7 separate regions of the Homo sapiens genome follow, and all the other regions are linked to region 4. Evidence: fine-mapped expression QTL. A gene starts in region 4. Each other region holds a variant in brackets. All regions are shown on one strand. Distances are between the middles of the regions.

Region 1 (4,121 bases), 110 kb before region 4:
CCACTGCACTCCAGCCTGGGCGACAGAGCCAGATTCCATCTCAAAAAAAAAAAAAAAAAATGTGGAAACAACCTCACTGTCCATCAACGGATGAGCAGATAAAGAAAATGTGATATATATAGACATATAAAGGAATATTCAGTCTAAAAGGAGAAAATCCTGCCATATGCAACAACATATATTAACCTCGAGAATATTATGCTAAGTGAAATAAGCCAGTCACAGAAGGACAAATCCTGCCTGGTTCCACTTATATGAGGAGTTTAAATAGCCAATCTCATAGACACAGAGTAGAATGGCGGTGAACTGCTGCTCAACAGCCATCAAGTTTCAGTTAAGCAAAACGAATAAACTACAGAGAGTTGCTGCACAACATTATACTACAGTTAACAGTACTGTATTGTATTCTTAAAAATAAGAGGATAGATCTTATATTGAGAGGTCTCACCACAATAATGATTTTTTTAAGTCAAACCCTGTCAGGAATTCAACTGAGATTCAGGAAAGCAAAAGACATGAGAAAGAACAAGAATAAAGTGGAGAAAATCGAGCAAAGGAGTAAATATCAAATGCAAGAAAACCAGAAATGTCAAAAGATGTATCAACAATTGACCAAACTGGAGATAGATATTAAGTAGCCAATGAACTGAACCTCCTAGCAAAAAAAAAAAAAAAAAAAAAAAAAAAAAATCAACAAGAAGAAGACAGGGAGAGTGTGGGCATGAGTGAGTGAGAGAGAGAGAGAGTGAGAGTGTTGTGTGTGTGTGTGTGTGTGTGTGTGTCTCAGCCATAACAGCAAACAAAACCACTGGGAATATCACGACTTGAGAATATTCAATACAAGGAATGAAAGCCCTGCCAATGTTCCCTAAAAGAACCTGGTATTTAAGGAAGAAACAATCCCCAGTCCAATATAATGTTCTGTGTAGTCTTCATGTAGGAGTCCAGGATCATCTCCACTGTGTTTTAACATCTGTATGTCCAGACTCTCCTTACTGTTAGACAGGTTTGGATTGGGGTCCATATTTTGAGAACATCTAAAAGCGATCCTCACCTACATGTGGCATGTGAAGCCCTGCTCGTCAAGAGTCAGTGCAGAAGTCACCAGCCGGTCTGGGGAATTACTTGTTTTATCACTGCACAAATGTGGCTAGCTTTCTTTACACCTTTGAGTTCCCAACATCTACCACAATACCTTGCACAGGGTAGGTTCCATACTGGCAAAGTGAAAAGGGAAAACAGAGGAGCTGTCTGGGGAAATGTGGATAGGAATCACCTATTGACAATTACTCTGAACATACTATCAGCTATTAGAGGCCAAGCAATGTGAACTCCACTTACTGCTTTTCTGAATTACGTAAAAACAAGAAGCTGTTAAGTATGCTCTTCCATCTGTCTTTTTTGTTTCCATGACAGAGATATTCAGCCAAGCCTTCCTTTAGTTGTGCTATTATCGCAGGACTTTTCTGTGCCCTCAGCATCTAATACTAAAAGTTTATTTTGTGATTTGACTATGAATTAGTGATGCTTTCTATTTGACATATTTCCATTTCCAATTGTGGAGTTTTTATTCACATTTACAAAATGGAGGTCTGGGATAAAGGACAAGTCTTTGGGAACTAAGTGGTTTTTTAATGTGATATTTACTGGAATCACAAGAACTTTACTCATCTGGGAAAAGAAAGAAGTTGTTTTCTTTAAAAAAACATTGGAGAATAAAATCCTAATTTTATTTCTTATGAAAGTGATTACATTTAAGAGAAAGGCTATAAAATATAAAAGTGGGCTGGACGTGGTGGCT[C/T]ACGCCTGTAATCCCACCACTTTGGGAGGCTGAGGTGGATGGATCACGAGGTCAGGAGTTCGAGACCAGCCTGACCAACATGGTGAAACCCCATCTCTACTAAAAATACAAAAACTAGGTGGGCGTGGTGGTTTGTGCTGATAAATCCCAGCTACTCAGGAGGCTGAGGCAGGAGAATCGCTTGAATCTGGGAGGTGGAGTTTATAGTGAGCTGAGATCATGCCACTGCACTCCAGCCTGCGCGACAGAGCAAGACTGTTTCAAAAAAAAAAAAAAAAAAAAAAAAAGTGGATCCTTGTCTTCAAATAGGGGATTCAGTTCATTTTTAAAAATATAGTCAATGTTCTAGTATTACTGAGTTAACTTTTCTGAAGGGTAATTATGAGTACTGCCTACTTACTTAAAAAAAAAAAAATCCTGGCCGGTCATGGTGGTTCATGCCTGTAATTCCAGCACTTTGGGAGGCTGAAGCGGGTGGATCACTTGAGGTCGGGAATTCAAGACCAGCCTGGTCAACACGGTGAAACCTTGTCTCTACTAAAAATACAAAAAATTAGCCAGGCATGGTGGCGGGTGCCTGTAATCCCAGCTACTTGGGAGCTGTAATCCCAGCTTAAACCCAGGAGGCGGAGGTTGCACTGAGCCAAGATCATGCCACTGCACTCCAGCCTGGGCAACAGAGCAAGACTCTATCTCGAAAAAAGAAATCTCCTTCTCTAGCTGTTACCAAGACTTCTGCATTTGGCTTCAAACTATATTCTGATGCTGCAGGTCAGTGGTTCTCAACAGTGAATATCAAAGTTCTGCTTGCCTTATCCCAAACCAATGAATCAGAATCTCCAGGGAGCTGAACCCCAGGGCAGCTGTGAAGAGAACTGCAGTGATTTTATTGCTCTTGATTCAGACCTCCATGCCTCTGTTAATGGTGTGCCCTAGCCTGAGAATGTCTTCTCTTTACCACAGCTTCTTCCTGCTCCCAGTGCCAATCAGCACCTCACTCATCCTTTGCAGAAGGCAAAGACCACAGAGTCTAGAGTCAGACTATGTTGGATCCTAGCTCTGACACTTGGCACTAAGTAGACAAGTTCCTTAATCTCATTGTGCTTTAGATTCCTGAGCTGTTCAATGGGAATACTGTAGCTACCTTGCAAGGTTGTCATGAGGATGAAAGGAGATAATATCACAAAGTGCTTTGAGAGTGCCTGGAAAAAGTAAGGGTTTGATGCACTTTAGCTCATTAACTCCTCTCAAAGCCCATCTCAAAAGCTCTCTAAGCTGGTCGCTCTCTCCTCTTTGAACCTCTTTTTAAACTATTTTACCTTGGGTTTATAAAAATTATAACTTTTTATTTTGAAATAGTTTACAATTCACAAGAAATTGCAAGAATATTACAGGGTTCCCATGTATCTTTCACTCAGCTTCCCCTGATTACACCCTACATAACAATAACACATTGTCAAAACCAGGAAATTGACATTGGTATAATATTAGTAACTAAGGCACAGACTTTGTGTGGATTTCATCAGCTTCCATGTGTGCTCTCTGTGTGCCTATGCATGTGTACAGCTCAACCATCCTTATCCTTCTACTACTCTTAACGCATCCTAGCAATGACTGATCTGTTCTCTATAATTTTGTCACTTTGTGAATGTTGTAGAAATGGTATCATATAGTAGGTAACCCTTTGAGATTAGGTCTTTTCATTCAGTTCAATGCCCTTGCAATCCATCCAAATTGTTCTAAGTGTCAATAGTTAATCTGTTTATTGCTGAACAGTATTCCATTGAATAGACATACTGCCATTTGTTTAACTACATAACTTTTTAAAGGGTATACAATATACACAATTTATGAAATTTATTACATTTAGCCTTGTATTAAAGTTTTTTTTTTTTTTTAAACCTGCTTCTGTAAGCCCTGCTGTTGATTATAAGCTCTTAGAGGTTGGAAATCATGTACTATTGATTTTTTTTTTCCTTAAGTTCTAATTATCATGCATCTTCACCCTCTGACCCAGGAATACAATAAAGGATAACCCCTCCCCACCAGAACCTAAGTTGAAATTGCCAAACCACAAACACCAGCTTACTAAATATAATACTATGGTTTTACATCAAGTCTTTGCTGGAATAAACTTCCCTTGCTTTGATATGGAAATGTATTAACAAAAGCCAAAATTCTAAGATTTATTTCACTGTCAAAACTGCAAACTTAAAAAATGATTAATTAAAAGCGACTCATGACTGAGAAAACACACTAAGCAATATAAAACAAGATACAAAAGCATTTCATAATATGTATGAAACCAACTACTTAAAAG
Region 2 (4,000 bases), 28 kb before region 4:
TGGTTAATGACAGGTTATGTTATGAGACATGCATTGTTAGGTGATTTCATCATTGTGTGAACATCAAAGTATACTTACATAAACCCAGATGGTATAGCCTACTACACACCTAGGCTATGTGGTATGGCCTATTGCTCCGAGGCCTGTACAGCACGTTATTATACTGAATACTGCAGGCAATTGTAACATAAGATTAGTATTTATGTATCTAAACATAGAAAAGGTACAGTAAAAATATAATATTTTAATCTTAAGGGACGACTGTCTTACACACAGTCCATCGCAGACTTAAATGCCATTACGCAGTGCATAATCATCTCAGCAGATGCAAAACATTTGACAAAATTCTGCTCATTCACGATGGCAAAACAAACATCCTCCATCTAGGCATCTACTAAGAGCTTTCCTCAGATAACGTATTTAATAAAGCACCAGAATCACTCCTGTAAAGTTTGAAACAAGAGTAGGATGTCTGCGATCATCAATATGACTCAACGTAGTACAGAACATCCTAGCTAATGCAGGAAATAGAAAGAAAATAAATGGAGGTGGTTCTTCTGTTAGGGCTAGGTTCCAAGGTTAGGATGTAAATGCGAAATGGCAGAAAGTCAGGTTCTCTTTGATTACGATACAGCTGGGGTAGGGTCAGGGAAAACATTTCTATAAAAAAAATCTGCACCAGTGGAAACCCGCACCAGGTCATGGAAACTGATGTGGCCATCTGAGGGAAGGAGACTGACTCAGGGCCTACAAATGTTTGTGGAGCAAGAGAGACAGTGGAGGAGCCAGCACTGTCTAAATTATCCCTCTCTTCTGTTTAGTAGGCATACACAACAGAATATGTTAAGTTAAATGTGAGTATGACCCCATTCTGTGGTAAGAGATTAAGAGATGCCAGAAAGGAAAAGACACAAAACTGTCACTCCAGACATCCACCTACAATGTGCAAGAAAACCAACCAATAATTGTTCATCAGGGTAACCAGAGCCAAGCAACAACAACAAAAACACAAAACAAAATCACTTCCAAATACAATGAGAAAGTAAAATTTTAAAAATCTTCACAATGGCAAGAGCAAAGCACCAGAGAAAATACTAAAAACCTGTAAATCCTGTAAAAGTGTTTTCAAAAATACTTGAAAGTGTTAAGAGGGTACACAACTAAGTTCGGGTATCTATGGAATTTAGATGCCATTTCAAAGCATTTCAATGGAATAAATGGCCATATACTGTGTTTAGACAAAATTAGACAGTACCTCAGTTCCTTAGTATCTTAAGGAATAAGAAGTTACTAAAGTTCAATCCTATTTTAAGAACACCCATATTATAAACTATAGATTTATGAAAAACAAGAGTTTAGAAATTTTTCTTGAGAAACAAATAAGTATCCAGGAGTTAATTGGATGCTCATAGCCAGACCTCATTATTACAAATATGCACAAGAAGCCCTACACTTGACAGCAAAATGTCTGCATTTCCAGCTCCCCCCTTGTTTATTTCATCTACTTGAATTGGTCTGAGTTTTGATTCCATTTATCCAAGCACTCCTCTTCACCTTCCTTCCCTTTCCTTTCTTGAATACTGTCAGGCTGGATACTGCAAGGGAAAACTCGCCATTTATATCAGCCAGTTTCACAATCTATCCCATGAAACCAAATGAGAAGGAATTCACAGCTGCAGTTTACGGATAAGGCTATGTAGCAAAACAGGGGTGCCAGAAATCAGAAGGTTCAATGCCCTGTTAGACAAGAAAATTAGAAAAGTATGTTCTGGTCAAGTCACATCCCAATCCATGTGAAAAGATTCAGGAGTCTAAGGTGACCCAGAATGTGACACACAAACCCCTACCCCTTCACAACCAATCATAACATTCAGCTTGCCAAAGTATCAAGTCTTCTACTCACACCCTGCCTTAAAAAGAGTCATAATGAGAGATTTCAGTGCCTCCATGGGGCATCCCAATGAAGTTTTTTTGGATGAAGAGCCCCCTTTCAGAAAATTTTTTTTCATAGGCAAGGAATTATTTAACAATTATGACTATTCATTTAGGCCAAGCCATAAGGGAAAGGAAAGGAAAAGATGCAGTTTGTGTGCTTGGAGGGAAGGGATATCTTCTTGGCCACCTCAAATCCATTTGAGAAGCAGGTACCGTATAAATTAGCAGTTATCATCTCACTGAGAGATCCAACAATTATTTCACAAGG[G/T]ACCATTAAGAAATTTGGGTCACTATTATGATCATCCTCATTCAACAGGTAAGGAGTGAAGGGTCAAGTGTGATTACGCAATTGCCAAAGGTCCACATGACTTGACAAGGATTACCTAAAACCTTCAAAAGCAGTCCACACAAGGCAACCCCAGTCACTTAAGAAACCTGAAAACAAGGATCTAAAGGGTAATGTTCTAAATATACTTCCTGTTCAGAACACTTACTTAGTATCTTAAAGAATAAGAAGTTACTGAAGTTCAATCCCATTTTAAGAACACCCATATTATAAACTATAGATTTATGAAAAATAAGAGTCTAGAAATTTTTCTTGAGAAACAAATAAGTATCCAGGAGTTAATCAGATGCTCACAGCCAGACCTCATTATTACAAACTAATCTGACACAGCTAACTCACATCATTCTACTGTAGGAAGGACACAAGCAATCTCATTAAACATCTACACCAAACAAGGTCACTCTGAGACGATGACAAAGTGAGACAAAACAAGATCACTGTGAAACCCACAAAATACAAACATATCCCATCTCGGCAAAATTGAGTAACCACTACTTCTTTACTAATTACAGCTGTAGCCTGGCTCTAATCTGCCTTCCCTAAAGGTACTGAGATACCCAATCACAGAATCGCTCCCACTTTCTGAAAACACCCAATCTAAAAAGAACCTTTGCTTCCCTGCTTCCATCAACCCTTCCCAATATTACTCAACCAAAGCCCCAAGTTTCCAATAGGTTCTTTCTAACACCCCTTTCTGCTCTTTAATGTGTTTTCCCCTCAATGCAATGAACGATAAACCCAAGCTTGTTCAATATGTGCCTAGAGGTCTTTGAGGGCACAAATGATTCATCATTTTACCAATTTCCCTTTTCTTTCACCATCAGGCTCCCTCATACATTTACATTTTGATAAAACCGAATTTAACTTCATCTGCAAATAAACTTTTCAGGATCCTAGCTATTGCATAGAAGCATGCTACATCTATAAGAGAAAATGTCTCTGGCAGAGGCTCTGAGTGCATCAATATTTTTAATCCATTCTTTAAAAAATACCGAAGACATTTCCTTCTTAATATACAGAGAATCCTCTATACCAAGAACTCTGAAAACCAGGTAGCTTTTTCTTCTAATGCTCAAAGCATGGCAGACCACGATGACACCGAGAGGACCACATTTTCCAATTTTACAAGTTCTGAAAATACCAACTGTACACTCAGGGGACTTTACAGCCCTATAGTAACAAATGGTTTTGCCCTATAGTAACAAATGGTTTTTCTGGACACTCTAGGTTCTAAGACCCAATCTCAGACGGGAAGAGACCAACAATATAGATAAATCCCACAGACATAATGCTGGGAGAAAGACATTAAACACTTAAAAAGTACACACTGTCTAATTCCAGTTAAGCAGAGTTCAAACTCCACATAGTGGCTACCCTTGGAGGGATAATGGCCGGAAGGGGGCACAGTGGAGTCCAGGTATTAGTAATATTCTGTTTCGTGATCTGGGTGCAAGTTACACATGTGCCTTCAATCTGTGAAAATGAATCAAAATGTACACTTACCATATGTGTATAAGTTATACTCCAAAAAAAGTTTTTAAAAGGAAAAGATAAAGTGGTAGCATGTCACAGAGCAGCCTCCACTTAACTGAGGCTCTGAAAGTGGCATATGTCCACTATTTAGGCCAGTTCCTTAACCTCTCTGAGACACATCTTCCATCTGTAAATGAGGATAACTCTTATACTCACAGGCTCCTTTTGAGAGTTATGTGAGTTACT
Region 3 (4,106 bases), 26 kb after region 4:
GAGTCTCACTCTGTCGCCCAGGCTGGAGTGCAGTGGCGCAATCTCAGCTCACTGCAACCTCCACCTCCCAGGTTCAAGCAATCCTCCTGCCTCAGCCTCCTGTGTAGCTGGGATTGCAGGCATGTACAACCACACCCAGCTAATTTTTGTATTTTTAATAGAGACGAGGTTTCACTGTGTTGGCCAGGCTGGTCTCGAACTCCTGACCTTAGGTGATTCTCCCACCTCAGCTTCCCAAAGTGCTGGGATTACAGGTGTGAGCCACTGTGCCCAGTCAGCAAAAATTTTTAACTTTTATTTTGGTTTCTGGGGGTACACAGGCAGGTTTGTTAAATAAGTAAATTATGTGTTGTGGGGTTTGGTGTACAGTTTATTTCATCACCCATGTAATGAGCATAGTACCCAATAGGTAGTATTTCGATCCTCACTGTCCACCCTCAAGTAGGCCCTAGTGTCTGTTGTTCCATTTTTTGTGTTTATGCATACTCAGTGTTTAGCTCCCACTTATAAATGAGAACACGTGGTATTTGGTTTTCTGTTCCTGTGTTAGTTTACTTAGGATAATGGCCTCTGGCTCCATCCATGTTGCTGCAAATGACATGACCTTGTCTTTTTTATGGCTGCATAGTATTCCATGGTATACCACATTTTCTTTATCCAGTGTACTGTTGATGGGCATTTAGCTTTATTCCACGTCTTCACTATTGTGAATGGTACTGCAGTGACCATATGTGTGCATGTGTCTTTATGATAGAACAATCTATATTCCTTTGGGTATATACCCAATAATGGGATTGCTGGGTTGAATGGTAATCTGTTTTAAGTTTTTTGAGGTATTACCAAACTGCTATTCACAGTGGCTGAACTAATTTACACTGTCACCAGCAATGTATAAGCCTTCCCTTTTCTTTGCAGCCTCGCCAATATCTGTTATTTTTTACCTTTTAGTAATAGCTATTTTGACTGGTGTGAGATGGTATCTTATTGTGGTTTAGATTTGCGTTTCTCTAATGATTAGTGATGTTGAGCATTTTTTCATATGCTTATTGGCTGTATGTTAAGTTTTCTTTCTTTTTTTTTTTTTTTTTTTTTTTTTGAGACGGAGTCTCGCTCTGTCACCCAGGCTGGAGTGCAGTGGCAGCGATCTCGGCTCACTTCACGCTCCGCCTCCAGGGTTCACGCCATTCTCCTGCCTCAGACTCCCGAGTAGCTAGGACTACAGGCACCCGCCACCACACCCGGCTAACTTTTTTTTTGTATTTTTAGTAGAGACAGGGTTTCACCGTGTTAGCCAGGATGGTCTCAATCTCCTGATCTTGTGATCTGCCCGCCTCGGCCTCCCAAAGTGCTGGGATTACAGGCGTGAGCCACCGCGCCCGGCCCGGCTGCACGTTATGTTTTCTTTTGAAAAATGTTTGTTCATTTGACTTCCTATTTTTTAGACCGTACAGTGGATGATAAAATATACCCATCATTTACCTTTGACGATTATCATCAACAGATGGCCAATTTTGTGTGTGTGTGTGTGTGAGATGGAATCTTGCCCTGTTGCCCAGGCTGGAGTGCAGTGGTGCATCTTGGCTCACTGCAACCTCCGCCTCCTGGGTTCAAGTGATTGTTCTGTCTCAGTCTCCCGAGTAGCTGGGACTACAGGCGCGTGCCATCACTCCCAGCTAATTTTTTTTTTGTATTTTTAGTAGAGACGGGGTTTCACCGTGTTAGCCAGGATGGTCGCGATCTTCTGACCTCGTGATCTGCCCGCGTTGGCCTCCCAAAGTGCTGGGATTACAGGCGTGAGCCACTGTGCCCGGCCAGATGGCCAATTTTAAAAACTCAGTATCTCCGTTGATCTCTGTGTTAGTTTCAGAACTCTGAGAG[A/G]CAAACGTGAAGATAGGATAAGATGCACAAGAGATTTATTGGGGAAAAAAAGGAAGGGAACTAGAGGGAGCTAACAGAACTGTCAGAATGAAATGCAGGTTTAACTCCTGTAGAGAAGAGAAGAGAGGAAGGAAAGTTGGGTAGGAAATGTCTTAGACCTCAGTGGAGTTTTCAAAAAGTTTCAGGAAAGCCAATGGGAAATTCTTAAGCCCAGGTGGCATGTGAGAAAAGTACCCCACTCCCTAAGAATAGGCCTGCCGAAGATCTCTGCTGCAAGAAGTCATTGACTGGGAATAGTCCATGAGAAACATGACCTCTGTGTAAACTGGTGATGAATTGATTTCAGAGCACAGCGGCTGGAGCTAGTCAATTGTGCTCTTGGCAGTGGAAGATCTGAGAGACATATTTTCATGACCACCATCACGCTTCTCTCACCCAAGTAATTATGAAGCAAACCCTTAGCATTATACAATCTCATCTTCACAGTTCTTTTTAGTGAAATCAGCCTATACCAAAATTTAGCAAAAGTATCTTGGGAGTGGGAGATGGGAAATAAAAGCAAACCTACAGATTAATTTCATTTTACTTATATAAAAACTTTCAATAAAATGTTAGCAAATAGAATTTAGTAGTAAAAAAAATTATAAAATAGGATTCATCTCAGGGATGCAAGGAAATTTATCAATAAAATTTACCACATTGGCAGTTCAAAGTAAAAATACAATAATAGTGGGAGATATAGAACTTATTTGTAAGATAACTCGTGAGATAACTTACACTATACTGGGGTGAGACAGGCAATAAACAAATAAACCTACAGTATAATGCAGGGATAGTACTGGTGCAGAAATAGCAATACGGGTTACCAGAAAAGAGGAAAAAGTACAGAAACGAACACAAGTTATACCTTGTGCATAACAAAAAAGGATTTCAAAGCACTTAGAAAATGATAGACTACACTAGAAACTGTGTTAGGATATTTTGCTAGCTACTTGGGATTTTATTTTTTATTTTATATATTTATTTTTGAGACAGGGTCTCACTCTGTTGCCCAGGCTGGAGTGCAGTGGCATGATCTCAGCTCACTGCAGACTTTATTTCCCAGGCTCAAGTGATCCTCCCACCTCAGCCTTTCAAGTAGCTGGGACTATAAGTGCATGCCACCATTCTTGGCTAATTTTTGTATTTTTTTGTAGAGATGGGGTCTTGCTATGTTGCCCAGGCTTGTCTCAAACTCCTGGGCTCAAGTAATCCTCCCACCTCAGCCTCCCAAAGTGCTGGGACAATAGTCATGAGCCACTGTACCCAGCCTCATTTGGAATTTTAAAAATAAATAGCTAGAACTACCTTATATCCTTATATGGAAATAAATTCCAGGTGGATTAAAACTTTGTCAACAGAGAAAAAACAATAAAATTACTAAAGTAAAATAAGTAAGCATTTATATTTTCTTGGAGGGAAGTTCAGTGACATGTTAAAAATTATAGAAACCTGATGAAAATGACAGCACAGATTTATGCACGTTAAAGAGTAAGAAATGTATACACTAAATACGGTATTTTACCTTGAGAAAGACTTGAAGTTTGGATGCAGAAATGGGCTCAGTAGAATTGCCTCTTGTGAATTCCTGTGTGGTGATCTAAGGAGGGTTTTCTGAAGTTAGAAAGTTTTAACATGAGATGTGGATGGGCCGGTTTGTAGCACACATAGTGATCTGAAGTAACTGGTAGATGTTTGATGTGTGTGCAGTATCTTTTGTGCATTCTTATTTGACTGTGTTCAGTTGGGTACAGTTTTCTAGTTACACCTAGTGTTTTACACAGATAAAAATCACACATAAACAAGCAAAAAATTGCCTTACACTCAAATTATTCTCTAATACATCAGTTGCATAGGAATAAATTCTCATTTTCAAAATAAGTGTCATAGCAAAACTGACAGAATAACAAAGATACCTCCACCTCTTCAAAGTAGCTCTGAGAAAATACATTGAAAAACTGTGGGAGTCTGATGGGTCGCTCAAGTCACTCCCTGTGTCCCAGGAAAGATTATGTGCCATGGATCTTCCTGGGCTAGAGTTCCATCTCATTTTCTTGAAGTGTATGCCTTTATCTACTTCTTTGTTAGAAAGGATGAGGTAGAATCAAACATGTCTTTGATATTAAGCTTCTGTGGTCCAAACTGAAAGGGAATTTTCTAGAGCAGTTTGTATCATCTGGAGAATTCTC
Region 4 (4,000 bases):
TTTTTACAATCAACTGCTATTTAGGCTACTGATCACACTTAACTTGCAACTTGCTTTCTACACAAATTAAGAATGCCATCTAGTTCTCATGTATGAGCCAGCACTGGGGGTGTACACACGCGTGCGCACACATATACACAGCCTCCTCCACCGAAGGCATTTCCTGGCACAAGGGGCATCCTAAACTTGCTCCATTTCCAAGGTGTGACCCTCTATCCCCAAATTCATCCCTTTTTCTTCATTTCAAAGTTCAGCCTAATCCGCTATTTTGCAGCAGCTATGGCCATTTATCCCCCTTGATTTCTTGACATCATCTTCTCTGCTTCTGGCTGGGGAACTTTTGATTTGAATACAGTTGTCTGTGTGGGGATCCTTCATGTTAATGATGTGGTGAGCTGGCAGGGATGATAGGTGAGAGTACACAGTGTACTTTTTCTAGTTACGTTTCGCCTCATCACTGCTATAGGGGCCTTTCTAAACGCCTGCCACACCAGGAGAGAGACCTACAGACCCAAGCTTACCCGTTTCTGGGCAGCCTCCAGGGGACAGGTAGAAACAGAACAGATGGCCTGTTCTCCAGTATCTAGACTCAGAAGCAAGATACTTCTAACCACTCCACGAATGAAGCAAACACACGTACCTCTGGCTCAGCCAGGGAGTCACAGTCACTACCCTTCCCCTGGTTTCGGCCCCAGCCCTGTCCAGGCGTGGATGCTGCACTCTCCTCGCTGTAAACCGTCCACCCTCCCAACCCAAAGCAAAGAGCTTCCAACAGAGGTGGGAGCATTAGCGCCGTACCCGCCCTTCCCTCTCGATCCCGGCCAGAAAACTCCACTTCCCGGATTCCCGGCCACTCTCTCCCGCCCCCTCCCCGGGCGATCCAGCTAGCGCAGTCCAGATGCCAGCTTAGTGCCCAGTCCAGCTGCGAACCCCCACACTCCGAGCCAGGACCCAGTAAGAGATCCCAGCTTCCTCCCTCTTCCAGGACTGGGGTTCCCCAGATTCTGGACGCACCCCTCAAACATGCTAGGGCTGAAAAAAGTCCTACCCCGCCCCCCAGCCACGCCGCCAGCCTCCAGCCCAGCCCCGGAGGGGCCTCCTCTCCAGAGGCTAAAAGGGACCATGAATGGTTGCCACAGTAGCCTTCCCCCGCACCGCGCAAGGGTCCTCAGACCCCCGAGGAGGACAGACCCGCGTGGCCCCGAAGGGATACCTCCCTCTCCTCCCGGAAGCCAGCAGGTCCCCGCAGGGAGTGTGCTCTCAGAGGGTCCCCGGGAATCTGGGGAAGACTTGGGGGGTGGCTGGATTCGGGTGCAGCCCCTCCCGGGGCGGGCGGAGGTCGGCGCTGCGGCGCGTCCCCGGGGGGCACTCACGATGGTCACGCTGGCTTTGCGCAGGTCGCGGTTCTCCTCCTGCAGTGCCTTGCACTTCAGTTTGTAGGTCTCCAGCTCTATCTTCAGCACCTTGTTCTCTTGCTGCAGCGAGGCCAGGCGGTTGGTGAGCTCCTCCAGGCGGAACGGCGAGATGACAATGCCCCCCGACTTCCCACCGCCGCCGCCTCCCCCGCCGCCACCGCCGCCGCCCGAGGTCGACGAGCAGGACGACTGCATGGCGGCCGAGCTGCTGCTGTTGCCCCCCGCCCCGTCCGTGTCGCTCTCGCTGGCGCTGTCCGCCATGGCCGCGGCGGGCTGGGGAAAGGAGGAGGAGCAGCAGGGAGGCGGCGGCGACGAAGGCCGGGCTGCGAATGAGTGGGCGCCGGGCGAGCACAGGGGAGCGCCGAGCTGAGCGCCTGGCACCAGGGCGCAGACTCGGAGCGGCGGCGAGAGAAAGAGAGGGCGCTTCCCGCTGCCAAGGGACCTCCTCTGCCAGAGAACAGAGACCCCGCCCGGGCTTGGGCAGTATTGCACTGGGGCTCGCTCCAGCCGGGCTGGGCGCGCTCCCTAGGCCGCCCAGCAAAGCTGGCTGAAAGCTCCGGGACCCGCCCGCCGCCGTCTGGTGACCACGGGCGGGCTGGGAACGCGCAGGCACTGCGGGTGCGGGAAAGCCAAGGACTGCCCCCGCACCACCAGCTCGCCAGCCACACGTGTTCCAAGGGAGGGCCTCCGAGCCCCCTGATCTAAGCCCACGGCCGCCCAGCCTCTTCCGGGCTCGCGCCCGCCCCGAGAAAAAGGAAACCTGATGCCCCACCAGCCTCGCAGGTGCCGGGGACACGTGGAAAGGTCAGCCGGGCTCCGGCACCCATCCTCTACCGTGTTGTGGCCCCATCTTCCGCCGACTGTGTGTGCGCGTGTCTCCCTCTATCTGTTTCACACATACACGCAGTTTTATATTCTCAAAAGCAAGGTGTTTTTGACTAGGAAGGCTTGGATAAACCTAAGAGAACAAAGTTCCTCTACAAGAGGCCGAGGAGGATGAAACAACAGCAGCCACAGGTTAACCTTGTTAAGTAAGAATTTGCAGGAGAGACACACATCTCCTTTAATAACCTCATAAACCACACTGCGCTCAATTGTTTAAACAAGGTGCAACTGTTTTTTTCTTTTTCTCTTTGCATTTTGCAAACATTTCCAGCACATGTCTCGTAGTAGGATTAAGACAGTAACATTTACCTAATGAAGAAAAAAAAAAAGGAAGGCGAAACACTTTTAGTAGAAGATTGAAACACCTCTTTAAGTGCCAATTTTCCAAAGTAACTGCGGACATAACATTATGCTATACAAATAGTAATGATTGAGTGGGAGTGCAACATCACCCGTCTTTGCTATCCTCTTGCTCACTCCTAGAAAACTTTAGCATGTAAAAATAAAACAGTAATTACTGTAATGCGGTCTAATTCATGGTTCTAGCTTTGCAGTTTAAGAAATTAAAAATCAAAAACTTTTATTCCCCCTTCCTCTTCCCAAAGAAAGGCTTGCAGGAAATTGGCCCAGCAGGTGAGATGATTCTAAACACTTTGCCCTGTTGACACAAAACAGCTTTCACTTATGTATAAAAATTGGAAAGTGAAACTGACCAGACTAGTTTTATTACCCACGCTTAGTTAACATTACAACAAACACATGGTAATAGAAAATAGAAAAAAAAGTGTAATTTTTTTTTCTGTTGGGTTGAACTTTCTGAAAGATTTCTAAAGTGTTAGGAAGAAAGAAGAATGATTCTTATTCCCACTCCCTCATTATCTTTAAACCTAAATTTGATCTCATGATTAAACGGTGATTCAATGGCTCTTGGAAACTGGCACCTCAGAATAAACTCGAAAACACCAAGTGTTCCAAATGACATCATCTTTCACCAAGATGGCTGCTTTTAGCAAACAGCTTAAATGCCAACAGCAACTAAACCCCAGTTTCTCCCAGGTATTTTTTAGCTTAGTGCTGGAGGGCTTCTGAACTCTGTCACTGTTTGTATAGCAGGAGGGAGGAAATGCTTGGCTTTGCTCTTGAGAAACATATAGGCAATCTAAATCATTCTGTTACAAGTGATCCAGTTTAATTTGCACTGAAACTTAGTTCTCTCACTTTTTTGGGATCTAGTACATGAGACAATGAGTTAAATTGGAAACGGATTCTGGAAAGCTCACTTGAGGGTTGAAATGGAAGAGTAAAGCTAGCAGGGAGAAGCACCACAGGGGGAAACAGATTTAACAACATTCTTTCCCCTTTATTCAGCACTGTGATCGAATCTTAAGAGTAGGTCTGGCTGCCATACCTCACAAGTTTCTATTGCTCCCTATTCCATATTATCTTAAAGCTTCCACTTTTAGAGCTTATTGCAACAGGAACATTCCTTCCAGGCAGAGCAGGGGGCAAATTAACTCTCTCTTAGCGTCACCACAAAACTAACCGCCTTGGAAAGGCGGACTCACACTGCTTCAAGTCAGCAGAGGGGTGGAGTTTGAAGCGCCTGGTTTTCTTAAAGGGCCCAAGTCATGGTTAAGCTTAAGAATGTAGTGGCCTTCAGTGGAATTTGGAGGAAATTTGCATTTTGACATGGGACTTGT
Region 5 (4,105 bases), 120 kb before region 4:
CCCCAAATACTCATTCATTGGATGGATGTGGAAGAGACTAGTCCACGTCTGATTTTGTGTGTGAAGGACTATACTGTACCATCCATCAATTTTCTTATTTTAGCCAGGCACATAAATAACATTTTTATTTTACAGGTAAGGAACTTGAGTCCCAGAAAAGTTAAGTAACTATCCCAGGAAAATAATTGGTACTCAAACCTAGAATTGATCCCAAAGCCATGCTTCCAACAAAGTAGAGAAAAAAAACACCAAACAGGTGGATTGAAACTTTAAAGCTCACGAAACATCCCAAATGTGACATCCAAATCCTGTACATAAATATTTGTATGTAACATTTTGGAAATGGGCATGGTTTTCCTTTTCATAACCTCAGGTTTACTGCTTTAAACTGAAATACAACACAAATACAGAGCAGTGCACAAATCGTTAAGTGTACGGTTTCATGAATTTTCAAAACCTCAACACATCCAAGCAGCCAGCACTCTGATTAAGAAACAAAACTAGCCAGGCATGGTGGCTCACGCCTGTAATCCCAGCACTTTAAGAGGCTGAGGCAGGTGGATCACCTGAGGTCAGGAGTTTGAGACCGGCCTGGTCAATGTGGCAAAACCCCGTCTCTACTAAAAATACAAAAATTAACTTGTATTGGCGTGTTGGCACATACCTGTAGTCCCAGCTACTTGGGAGGCTGAAGCAGGATAATTGCTTGAACCCAGGAGGTGGAGGTTGCAGTGAGCCAAGATTGCACCACTGCACTCCAGCCTGGGTGGCAGAGTGAGACTCCGTCAAAAACAAATAAGCAAAACTATACCAGCCCTTTTCGTGCCATCATTCCTTATTTTTTTTTGGAGATGGGATCTTCCTTTGACACCCAGGCTGGAGTGCAATGGCGCAATCCTAGCTCACTACAGCCTCGAACTCTCAAGGCTCAAGTGATCCTCCCACCCCAGACTCCTGAGTAGCTGGGACTACAGGCTTGTGTCACTGCACCCAGTTGTTTAAATTTACTTTCTAAGGCAGCCTTTAGAGTTTACAATTTAAGTTAGATGTCTGTCAGAAGCAACAGAGAAACAATGTTTTATTCCCAAAAACCGAAATGAAAAAAGATAGGGTTTAAGGCTCAAGAGGTACATTTTAAAAAATTATCTTTATTTAGGTTTCTGATTCAGCACATGTATCAAAGACTAATCAACATAAAGGAGTAAATAAGACATTAATTGAAAGTCTTACATCTCTCTAAACTCTGACCAAGAATGTCAAGATTGCCACTATTACCAGAACTCCAACCTAGTCAAGTTGTAGACAAGCTATCATGAACAACATACAGTGTGCACAGATATGCAGAGGCAAAAGGCATGCTAGCGCTTGGCTCTCCTCTTTTCCTTGTTGACATCTTTCTGTTGGACAGTCCACTTTCGCTTTCCAGGCTAAGTTCCAAATCAAGTCCAAAGAAGGCTCAGGGGTCAACCTGACCAGATACTCTTCTGGAGGAATGCATTCTTAAACTGTTGTGCCTGCAACTTTGTTTTTGCCAGGATGAAGTTCAGACCGAGATGTACAATACAATCTAGATGACGGTGCAGACTAAGTCAAGAACTAAAGTTGTGCAGTAACCCGAGTTAAGGCATGAATGCAGACACACACATGCACACACACAGCACCCATGCTATCAAGACACAGGATTTTTTCAGTTGCCTCATGAGAGGCAACCTGGGCTTGGCAGTTAATCAGAACTGCTGAGCATTCCAGAAAATGCCCCCCACGACTTTATGCTAACAGCTGTGTGTATGTTTTAATCAAAAAATTAAAGAAGAAAAAAAAACCCTAAAAAACAAAGAAAAAAACAAACAAAAAATCACCAAAAACCTAGAAACCCCTTAATCTCTTACAATGGCTCTTGAGCATGGAACTCATGTAGCAGCATCAATGGCTGGCTCTTTAACAATTTGGAAATAAAAGGTTGTTTTACTATGTATTTCTTTGGTAGTCATCACTACAAAGTTTTCAGTGTTGGTTACCTATAAGACAAGTACTAGACAGAAGATCAAGTTACACAGAAATATTTCTTCTGTACTGATAAGATACAAATATTGAGCTCTCAAAGCACAAGTTACTATGCTTTTTCTTGCCTTATTGGGCATTCTCTAAAAGCAAGGCTTTGTGCAGGAAAAGTTCATGTCTACCTAACAAAGGGTGATACATGTTCTATTTTCCTACAAGTGAACAATTAACAAAAATTCACATTATCAATTATTTCTGGTTGA[AT/A]TCTGTTAGAAGCCAATTACAAAGGGACAGTAGCACTTGGTGTCAAAGCCACTTTCTGGTCACACATTCATTCCATGGTTGCTAGTCAGTATCTCAGGAGCTCAGAATTTAAAACTCCTTTCAGTCAACGAAGGAGTAAGTTCAATTAAAGGCTTCCACTATCTGCCAAATTTCTAGAATTCTGTCTAGAGTGCTAGCATGCTTGATGAGAGAAAGCAGTTCAGAGCCCAAAGAGGTGTCAGGTATTAGGTAAGTTAATTTGGTTTTGTATAAAAGGCATGGTAATCTGGCAACAGAGTACTTATCCTATTAGCAGCACAGTGGTAGCCAAGGGTCTCTGTCTGCAAGACAGGAAAATGAAGCTACTGAAGCCCCTGTTGCTCCCACCTGCCTGCAGGACGGCTACTGATTTTACAAAGGCCTTCTGGGAGCCAATCCAGGGCTCACCTGGGAGAGTGGGTAACAGAATGGCAGGAACCATGTTCAGCCCCCATGAGAAGTGCCCGACTGAGGGAAGTCAGCTTCCCATAGGTGAGGGGGCTGTTGCCATTATGGGCTCAGAATCTAAATCTTACTGATCCCTAGTAGTAAGACAATTGCCAAGAAATTGTCCTAGCAGGTACTACCCAAGTGTTACAGGCTCTGCATAGGTCCTCAAACACTTTAAAGGACACGAACCATCAAATTCAAAAGAGTAGTGTTTGTTCTATCAGTTCTGAATGTCCACAGGGAGAGGCAACTAGATTTATGTGGAAAAAGTGCTGTTTGAAGGAGCTGTGTTTTATTTCGAAGTGAAATGACTTTGGGAACCAGAACATTTCTGCAGATGTCTGAATATCAAGAACCTATCTCTAAAAGGCATTTATCAGGAAATGTTCGCTCACTCCAAGTGCTTTTTAAAAATTCAACATATGGCAATGTTTTAATTTTTGTGCTTTCAAGAGGTAACTAAATCGATAGGAAGCTGAGGGAAGATCATTCCATTATGGACTTTCTTGTTTGGGTGCAAGACACTATCCACAGCATTGAAATCTATAATCTCATAAAAGATTCTTATAAACATATACCATATTTCTCCTATAAGAAAAACTGAGAACTGTACCATGAAGGCAAAATTTGTTTGCCTACTCTCAGAATTCCTTGGAATGGCAATGTACCAGGAGGGTGAGTGAACTGTTGGTGAAAATTCCGGGTTTGACATGGCCCAGTCTGATCACATCAAAAACCTAAAGCCTCAATGATTAAATGCCAAACTTCTTCCCTGCATCTGAGAACTGTATTATGATTATGTATATTACACATACATTATAAATAAAATTTATATAGACCTACAGTTTCTTCCAAACAATTGAGTGATGTTCTCAGTTTGGGGGTGGAAGCAGGAAGAGGTGAAAAAATCTTATTGTTGCTTTTACTCTCAAGTTCTTAAAACGCTAGTCAAACACTATTATCCAACAAGACTTTTTTTTTTCATTCTGTTAACTCTTAAATATGCATTCGAAGGCAAAAATGGAGGTTTCTATACTGTACAATATTAAATATCTACAATGTCATGGTTCCTTATTTTTAGGAGTGTGTTTAATAAAGAGTTGGCTATTAGAGATGGTTGTCACAAAACATGGACTCTTAAAAATTACTGATAAATTACTTTTCAGTTCTCTGATTATATCCAACAGATACACATTCTTGTCATAAAATATACATTCTCTAGTAAGTTATTTTCATCCACAGCATATATAAATATGCAAACACAGGTGGTAAAAATCACTTTACTACCAAAGTACAAAACAGCAACTGCTGAAAAACAAAAATTAAGATGTTGCACGTGTTAAGAAAAGAG
Region 6 (4,100 bases), 190 kb before region 4:
CCTTCCACATCACATCAATATTTCTATAACTCGGGTACATCTTCTGTCAACTGTGGTCTTAATGAAGTAAAGGATTGGATTCTGCCTTCGATGTAATTCTTGGAAAGGCCACTAGTTCAACTTTTCTTTGGCTGGTCAAGATTATTTTTCAGCAGGTTCTCCAGCCAGTAATGTTATAATATACACCAAATAAATTAAGAAATGAACATTACTGTGAGGTGGAAAAATAAATACCTAATGGAACTCCTGTGGTGCTGACAACTGTAATTTGCAAAAAGTTTGACTTGTCAAGTGTGGCCCAAATGGCATATTTTATAAAAAGAAGTATGTAACTAATAAATACCCAAAGCAAAAAACTCAATATGCAAAGAGCTTGCTTGTGGAACATTAGCTATGATAATTATTTGAAGTACACAGTGTTCCTCCAACCCTGAAATAATAAAGTAACCTCTCAAAGTATAAAATAGCAAAGAAAATATTCAGCACTGCACACATGCCTGGCATAGAGTAGGTACCCAATGATTTAGTAGGTAAATAAATTTAATGACTGTCAATTAAAAAGTATCTCAGGTTAACTTGGCTCCTCATTACTTGACCTAAGGCACTTGAAGAAAATGTGAGGAATTTCTTATGTAATTAACTATTTAATATGTAATGGGTAATAAGGAACCCCAATAATAAGGTAAATTATTATTAGATGGCATAAAAAATAAATTCAAAGAAAATAAATGAAAGTTTTAAAACTCAAACCTCTTACTTTGGTTTGAGTTTTAAAACTCATTTATTTTCTTTAAATTTCTTTATTTCATAATCTGTATTTCACATTTCAAATGCTGAGAATTATCAGGTGTCAAAAATGTGCTCCCCCTTCTAGAGATTAGGAGAAAATCTTTTCAAAAACTATAAAAGTGGGGCAGCCACTTTGTAAAATAGCCTGGCACTTCCTCAAAAGGTTAAAGATAGAGTCACCAGATGAGCCAATGGTTTCCATTCCTGGGTACATAACCAAGAAAAATGAAAACATGCCCTCACAAAGACTTGTACATGAATGTTCATAGCAGCATTATTCACATTAGCCAAAAAGTGGAAACAACCCAAATGCCCATCAACTGATGAACAAATAAAGAAAATGTGGTATATCCATACAATGGAATATTATTCTGCTGTAAAAAGTACTTATAAATTCTAAGTGGAAAGAAGACAGATAGGAAAGGCTACATGTTATATATTCCATTTATATGAACATCACAGAATTAGGTGAATTTAGAGACAGAAAGAAGATTACTGGTTGCCTAGGGCTGAAGAAGGGGACCTGCTGAGGGAAAATGGGGAGAAGCTCCTAACATGTACTAATGGGCATGGGGTTTCTTTTTGGAATGATGAAAATTTCTAAAATTGACTGTGATGTTGATTGCAGAACTCTGTAAATATGCTAAAAAGCATTAAATTTTACACTTTGAATTGCATGTCAATTGTATGTCAAGTGAATTGTATGGTATATGAATTACCTCTCAATAAAGCTGTTATTTAAAAAAATACAGCAGATGTAACTTTAGCTCTGCTTGTGTTTTTTTTTTTGCTTTCATTTTTTTCTGATTTTTTTTTCTATTTTATTTTATTTTATTTTTACATGAATAAGTTCTTTAGTGGTGATTTCTGAGATTTCAGTGCACCCATCACTGGAGCAGTGGACGCTGTACCCAATGTGTAGTCTTTTATCCCTCACCATCCCCTACTCTTTCCCCCAAGTCCCCAAAGTCTTATGCCTTGGCATGCTCATAGCTTAGTTCCCACTTATGAGTGAGAACATATGATGTTTGGTTTTCCATTCCTGAGTTACTTCACTTAGAATAATGGTCTCCATTTCCTTCCAGGTTGCTGCAAATGCCATTATTTCATTCCTT[T/C]TTATAGCTGAGTAGTATTCCGTGGTGTGTGTGTGTGTGTGTGTGTGTGTGTGTGTGTGTGTATAAAACAATTTCTTTATCCACTCAATGACTGATGGTCATTTGGGCTGGTTCCATATTTTTGCAATTGTGAATTGTGCTGCTATATACATGCATGTGAAAGTATGTTTTTCGTATAATGACTTCTTTTCCTCTGGGTAGATAGCCAGTAGTGGAATTGCTGGGTCAAACGGTAGTTCTGCTTTTAGTTTTTTAAGGAATCTTCACACTGTTTTCCATAGTGATTGTACTAGTTTACATTCCCACCTATAGTGTAAAAGTGTTCTCTTTTCACCACATCCATGCCAACATCTATTATTATTTGATTTGATTTTTTTTTATCATGGCCATTCTTTCAGGAGCAAGGTGGTATCACATTGTGGTTTTGATTTGCATTTCTCTGATCATTAGTGATGTTGAGCATTTTTTTATATGTTTGTTGGCCATTTGTATATCTTCTTTTGATAATTGTCTAATCATGTCCTTAGCCCAATTTTTGATGGGATTGTTTGTTTTTTTCTTGCTAATTTATTTGAGTTCCTTATAGATTCTGGATATTGGTCCTTCGTCACATGTGTAGATTGCAAAGATTTTCTCCCACTCTGTGGGCTGTTTGCTCTGCTGATTGTTTCTTTTGCTGTGTAGAATCTTGTTAGTTTAATTAAGTCCCATCTATTTATCTTTGTTTTTGTTACATTTGCTTTTGGGTTCCAGGTCATGAAGTCTTTGCCTAAGCCAAGGTCTAGCTTATCTTCTAGAACTTTTATGGTTTCAGGCCTTATATTTAAGTCTTTGATCCATCTTGAGTTGATTTTTGTATAAGGTAAGAGATGATCCAGTTTCATTCTTCTACATGTGGCTTGTCAAGCACCATTTGTTGAATAGGGTGTCCTTTTCCCACTTTATGCTTTTCTTTGCTTTGTCGAAGATCAGTTGGATGAAAGTGCTTGGCTTTATTTCTGGGTTCTCTATTCTGTTCCATTGGTCTGTGTGCCTATTTTGTACCAGTACCATGCTGTTTTGGTGACTATGACATTATAGTATATTTGAAGTCAGGTAATGTGATGCCTCCAGATTTCTTCTTTTTGCTTAGTCTTTCTTTGGCTATGGGGGCACTTTTTTTGGTTCCATATGAATTTTAGTGTTGTTTATTCTAGTTCTGTGAAGAATGATGGTGGTATTCTGATGGAAATTACATTGAATTTGTAGATTGCTTTTGGCAGTATTATCATTTTTACAAGATAGATTCTACCCATCCAGGTATGTCAATTGTATTGTATGATATATGAATTATATCTCAATAAAGCTGTTACTAAAAAAATACAGCAGATGTAATTTTAGCTCCGCTTGTAGTTTTTAAAAATATGTCAGCAAAACACAGCCTTTAAATTCATCTAGTAGAGTAACAGAGCTGCTTAATATTGTGCCAAGTTAGGGGTCAGACAAGATCAGGCTGGAATAACCATGAAAAATTGCAACCTTCAGAGACAGGATTCACTGTTTAATGTAAGTTGTGACATATGCTGGCACAAAGGACACAGAACAATACATAGGGCCAGGTACAGTGGTTCACGCCTGTAATCCCAGCACTTTGTAAGGCCAAGGCGGGAGGATCACCTGAGGTCAGAAGTTTGAGACCAGCCTGGCCATTGGTGAAANCCCCGTCTCTACTAAAAACACAAAAATTAGCTGGACATGGTGGCGTGTGCCTGTTATCCCAGCTACTCGGGTGGCTGAGACAGGGAGAATCACTTGAACCTGGGAGGCAGAGGTTGCAGTGAGCTGAGATTGCATCACTGCACTCCAGCCTGGATGACAGGGTGAGACTCCATCCCCCCAACCAAAAAAAAAAAAAAAAACAACAATACATAGAGAATCTGTATCTTCTGCCATTGGAAGGTTTCCCTAACCATCCAGGTTGCAGGATAAATGTCAGAGAAATTATGTAGAAGCTGATTTTTATCAATCTTGAAAAATTAGCTCTCCACTTACTCACTAAGCTGTAGTCACAGTGAGCTTCTGTAGTATCTTTATTAGCAGTGTGAGACTCTGTTCTCATGATGCTATTAAAGACATACCTGAGACTGGGTAATTTATAAAGAAAAGAGGTTTAATTGACTCACAGTTCCACATGGCTGAGAAGCCCTCACAAGCATG
Region 7 (4,000 bases), 42 kb before region 4:
GCCCCTGCACTCCAGTATGGGTGACAGAGCCAGGTTCTGTCTCAAGAAAAAAAAAAGTATATATATATATATACACACACACACACACACACACACACACACACACACACACATATATATACACATACACACACACACACATATATAAAACCTCTGATGGGAAAATGACACAAGCAGGCATTTTTAAAAATGAAGATTAGAATGATAAATTATTAGAAGTTCATAATCACCCTCAGAAGTAGTTAAAAAGGTTTAAGATCACAGTATCTGACATCCCAGATTGACAAAAATTAACAAGTTTGATAATATCAAGTGTTGACAAGTATCAAGATCAGTGGGAATTCTTATATAACGTATATGGCAGTGTACATTGGTACAAATATTTTGAAAAACTAAATATTTTTGTACTCTACTATGTAGCAATTCTACTACGAGGTATATGCCCTACATAAAACTCTTCCATGTATAGAAGAAAGCAGTTGTAACATATTCATTGTGTTGTTGATCCTTAAATAAAATACTGGAAACACCCCGAATACCTACTCAGAAGAAAAACAGTATATTCACACAGAAAATTAAAAAGCAATGAAATCAAAAGAAATACATTAAATACAATATGAATAAAGCTAAGAAACACAGTATGGTGTGAAAGAAGCTGCAAAAAAAATACATTTTTTAATAAACTAAAAAAACAGAAGAAATGATATATTGCTTAGAGATAACTTATGAGATGAGGAGGTGGGAGGAACAGAATAGGAATGAAATTCACAGGTAGATGCAATGGTATCAGTACCATTCTTGAGTGGTAGGAATCCAGGTGCTCATTTTGTCATGCTTTATAACTTACACGTGTTATATGGTCCACTTTTGTTTGAATAAAATATTACATAATGAAAATGTTAAACAACGTTATAAATATAACTTGGTGGATAAATCATTTTCCCTCTTAGAATTCATAGATGTTACAATACAAAGCTCAAAAATATTATGCTACGTGATAGAAGCTTAATGCCAAAGACCACATATTATATGACCCCACTTATAGAAAATGCCCAGAATGGGCATATTTATAAAGACAGAAAGATTTGTGGTTGTGTAGGGTTGGGGCAGGGAAGGGTGGGTGGTGGGGAGAGGGATAGTGAGTGCTAAAACTAGATTATAGTTCAACTCTGTAAATATAATAAAAACCACTGAACTGTACATTTTACACGTGTAAATTTTATGGTATATAAAATTCTATCTCAATAAAGCTGTTTTTTAAAAAAGCATTCTCTATAACATGCACGCTTTTCATATATCAGAAATATCAATGAAATATAAAAATGTTAAATGACCTTAGAAAGCAAGGAGATACAGACTTAAATATATGACATAATTCAATAAAACATGAAAAAGCCCTAACTTTACATCACTATAACAATTCACTGTAAAAAATGGGGCATATCTAATACTTATCACTTTGATATATCTAGAAAAATAGCTAGCCCATCGTTCAAATATCATCTCTAATATAGTTACAGGCACATTCCAACTTATAAATGCTCTAAAAGTCACAAATGTTCTAATTTATAAGTTGGTTGTTGGGATAACATTTTCTATTGCAACAACATAAACTACAGTTAGTTCCCATGGCCAGCTTTAAAAAACTCATTCATGCCATGATGTAACTGAATTCTGCTATGAAA[T/A]GTAGTCTGAATCTGGGTCCTAAAAGCAAAGATTCAAAGTAGAAGAAAGTTCCCCCCACCTTTAAGTATGGAACCAGTTTAAGGCATAATTTTCAAAAGCTACCTTGGTAGTTTCTTATTCTTCCTCTCAGAATTCTTTATCACCTACTGCTACACTTATCAGATGCAGAGTCCACTCAAACTGCTAAGTCCCTAACTCCAGTAAAGCATAACAACCAAACAATCCTTTCTCGAAAATAAATCATGCCCGCAAATCAGCAACCTTCTTTTCCTTACAAAACAAAGTTAGCACCTAACAACCCTTTCAGTGGGCAACTGAGAAGAAAGCAGACTGATCCAAATTATTAATATACTAAGATGTGAAAGGCTTTCTTAACCCTGATGATTGTTCTGCGGGGTGTAGGAGGGCAAGATAGGATCCCTGCCAGAGTATTTTCTGCCAGAACAAGCTTACTCAATCAGTTACCTATTGTTATGTAACAAACCATGCCAAAACTTAAGGCTATAAACAACAACAATGTACTGTCATTACTCTATGGGTTAATGGGTGGTTTCTTGGCTGGTTTCACTGGGCTCACTCACATGGCCGCATTCAGGGGGAGGTTCAGCTGAGACCCAAGATCAAAGCCAAGATCAAGGGATAGGAAACAGACTCCCACCTCTTAATGACAGAAACAGTATAGACCTCCTCAGATGTATGCATGATATATAAAAAAGAGATCAGACAAAAAAGGGCTGTGCCTAACAAGTCTCAAACCACACACATTTGTAAGAACAAGAGTCACAAACTACAAGGGAGCAATGAGTATATCGGTGTTCTGTGTTTGTGATTCACATCAACGATTAACTTAATACGCGATCTTCAAGTTGATCAAATTACTACCTCCAAAACGTTTTAGCTCAGAAGCTACTGGGGAAGTTCTTCACTGCCCTTGGAAGATGTGTTGTTAATTATGGAGGCCTCTAACCAGCTATTTACGAGAAACCTATCAATGTCCCACCCTCTACATCTCTACCTATACCTGACACCCGAGGTTTCCAACCCTGGCCCAGGGGCAATGACTAACACCTGAAGACCGGGATATAACATTCCAACAGCTATACATGCTTGGAAAACCTGCGGTGTTTCTCAGTTGCACCTGTGCAGAGAAAAGGAAGTAATCAAGCACCTCCTAACTTCAAAGAATCAACAGGGGGAGCTCTGTGATAAAGTGACCTCTGCAACAGAAAGTAGGGCCAATTACAGACAGAGATGACTGCCAAATCCAAGGCTCCTCCCACCCTTTCCCGGCAAGGTGCATTCCCCAAGACAGAGAAATCTTAAAGGAAATTAAAAACAACAAAACAAAATAAAAATCCAAACAAAGAATAAAACCCACTGGCAGTTGATCTCCATTTGGAGGTTGAATGATTGTAAATTGATTGCAAAAGAATATGATTCTAGCTGGGCACGGTGGCTCACGCCTGTAATCCCAGCACTTTGGGAGGCCGAGGCGGGCAGATCACGAGGTCAAGAGATAGAGACCATCCTGGCCAACATGGTGAAACTCTGTCTCTACTAAAAATACAAAAATTAGCTGGGTGTGGTGGCCCGTGCCTGCAGCCCCAGCTACTTAGGAGGCTAAAGCAGGAGAATCGCTTGAACCCAGGAGATAGAGGTTGCAGTGATCGAGACAGGGTCACTGCACTCCAGCCTGGTGACAGAGAGAGACTCCATCTCCACAAAAAAAAAAAAAAAAAAAAAAGAATACCATTCCAGATTAAATACTGGCCATGCATCATTCACTGTGTACCTACACCAGGAACCCTAAATTTCTAAATAAGTTCCTATGACTTCTGACATGGGCAGGGTGAACCTCAACACTAGCCCCAGAAGTTTATCTTCCATCTGCCTCCTCTCCCCACGCCCCATAATAAGTTCCCAACCAGAACTGCTGCCAAGTAGAAAAATAAGCTACAATCATTCGATTTCTAAAAGTTAACATCTGTGATGGAGAATCTCCTGCATGGGAAGCACCGTGTGGAATGTGACACTGCATACGACAGACACTGTCCCCACCCTGAAGGGGTATATAATCCTCCTAGCAATTAAAGAAAAGCAACATCATTAATCCATACATTTAGCAATTGGCCTTGGAATGATCTTGTCTTGGCTACATAAATAGCCTCAAGAATAAAGAGATTTAAAATGGGATTAAGCTGCACAGAGGAAAAAGCTAAGCATTTTTATCTACTACAGTAACAGAAGAAATACAAGAGACTACTCAAGGCCTAAGGTCTGGCACATAAGCATCCAAACACCTGCTGAATAGGGA

Alleles and levels. Alleles are on the strand shown, and positions count from the first base shown. SD is a standard deviation of normalised expression in the study named. Not every link is listed here.
In carriers of allele G in region 2, the expression in aorta of the gene that starts at base 1,808 in region 4 tends to be higher than with T alone (small effect, 0.21 SD a copy in GTEx).
In carriers of allele AT in region 5, the expression in fibroblasts of the gene that starts at base 1,808 in region 4 tends to be lower than with A alone (moderate effect, 0.47 SD a copy in GENCORD).
For the expression in cerebellar hemisphere of the gene that starts at base 1,808 in region 4, allele C in region 6 goes with a lower level than allele T (small effect, 0.31 SD a copy in GTEx).

The links. PIP is the estimated chance that this variant, and not a neighbour inherited with it, causes the effect. A credible set is the group of variants that fine-mapping cannot tell apart.
Region 1: its variant is the best candidate, but not a certain one, in a credible set for the expression of CCDC6 in whole blood (INTERVAL, PIP 0.68).
Region 2: its variant is the best candidate, but not a certain one, in a credible set for the expression of CCDC6 in aorta (GTEx, PIP 0.66).
Region 3: its variant is the best candidate, but not a certain one, in a credible set for the expression of CCDC6 in whole blood (INTERVAL, PIP 0.52).
Region 5: its variant is the best candidate, but not a certain one, in a credible set for the expression of CCDC6 in fibroblasts (GENCORD, PIP 0.58).
Region 6: its variant is the best candidate, but not a certain one, in a credible set for the expression of CCDC6 in cerebellar hemisphere (GTEx, PIP 0.77).
Region 7: its variant is the best candidate, but not a certain one, in a credible set for the expression of CCDC6 in nasal epithelium (TOPMed, PIP 0.53).

The regions. Positions count from the first base shown.
Region 1 is chr10:59,796,929-59,801,049 of GRCh38, forward strand. The region is part of intron 7 of CCDC6 (coiled-coil domain containing 6); the gene reads right to left. Among named protein-coding and RNA genes, the nearest start is that of MRLN, 46 kb to the left of the region's middle. The variant C/T (reference allele first, on the strand shown) is at 1,802.
Region 2 is chr10:59,876,843-59,880,842 of GRCh38, forward strand. All of the region lies in intron 1 of CCDC6 (coiled-coil domain containing 6), which reads right to left. Among named protein-coding and RNA genes, the nearest start is that of CCDC6, 28 kb to the right of the region's middle. The variant G/T (reference allele first, on the strand shown) is at 2,204.
Region 3 is chr10:59,930,712-59,934,817 of GRCh38, forward strand. No RefSeq gene overlaps it. Among named protein-coding and RNA genes, the nearest start is that of CCDC6, 26 kb to the left of the region's middle. The variant A/G (reference allele first, on the strand shown) is at 1,879.
Region 4 is chr10:59,904,749-59,908,748 of GRCh38, forward strand. CCDC6 (coiled-coil domain containing 6) reads right to left here and starts at 1,808. Exons shown (of 9, transcript NM_005436.5): 1 at 1,374-1,808. The coding sequence starts at 1,676. RefSeq lists enhancers at 521-750, 3,443-4,000 and silencers at 1,271-1,550, 1,581-1,920, 2,103-2,397.
Region 5 is chr10:59,787,635-59,791,739 of GRCh38, forward strand. It overlaps CCDC6 (coiled-coil domain containing 6), which reads right to left. Exons shown (of 9, transcript NM_005436.5): 9 at 1,113-4,105. Among named protein-coding and RNA genes, the nearest start is that of MRLN, 36 kb to the left of the region's middle. RefSeq lists an enhancer at 2,298-2,799. The variant AT/A (reference allele first, on the strand shown) is at 2,265.
Region 6 is chr10:59,719,447-59,723,546 of GRCh38, forward strand. No RefSeq gene overlaps it. Among named protein-coding and RNA genes, the nearest start is that of SLC16A9, 12 kb to the left of the region's middle. The variant T/C (reference allele first, on the strand shown) is at 1,905.
Region 7 is chr10:59,862,445-59,866,444 of GRCh38, forward strand. All of the region lies in intron 1 of CCDC6 (coiled-coil domain containing 6), which reads right to left. Among named protein-coding and RNA genes, the nearest start is that of CCDC6, 42 kb to the right of the region's middle. The variant T/A (reference allele first, on the strand shown) is at 1,686.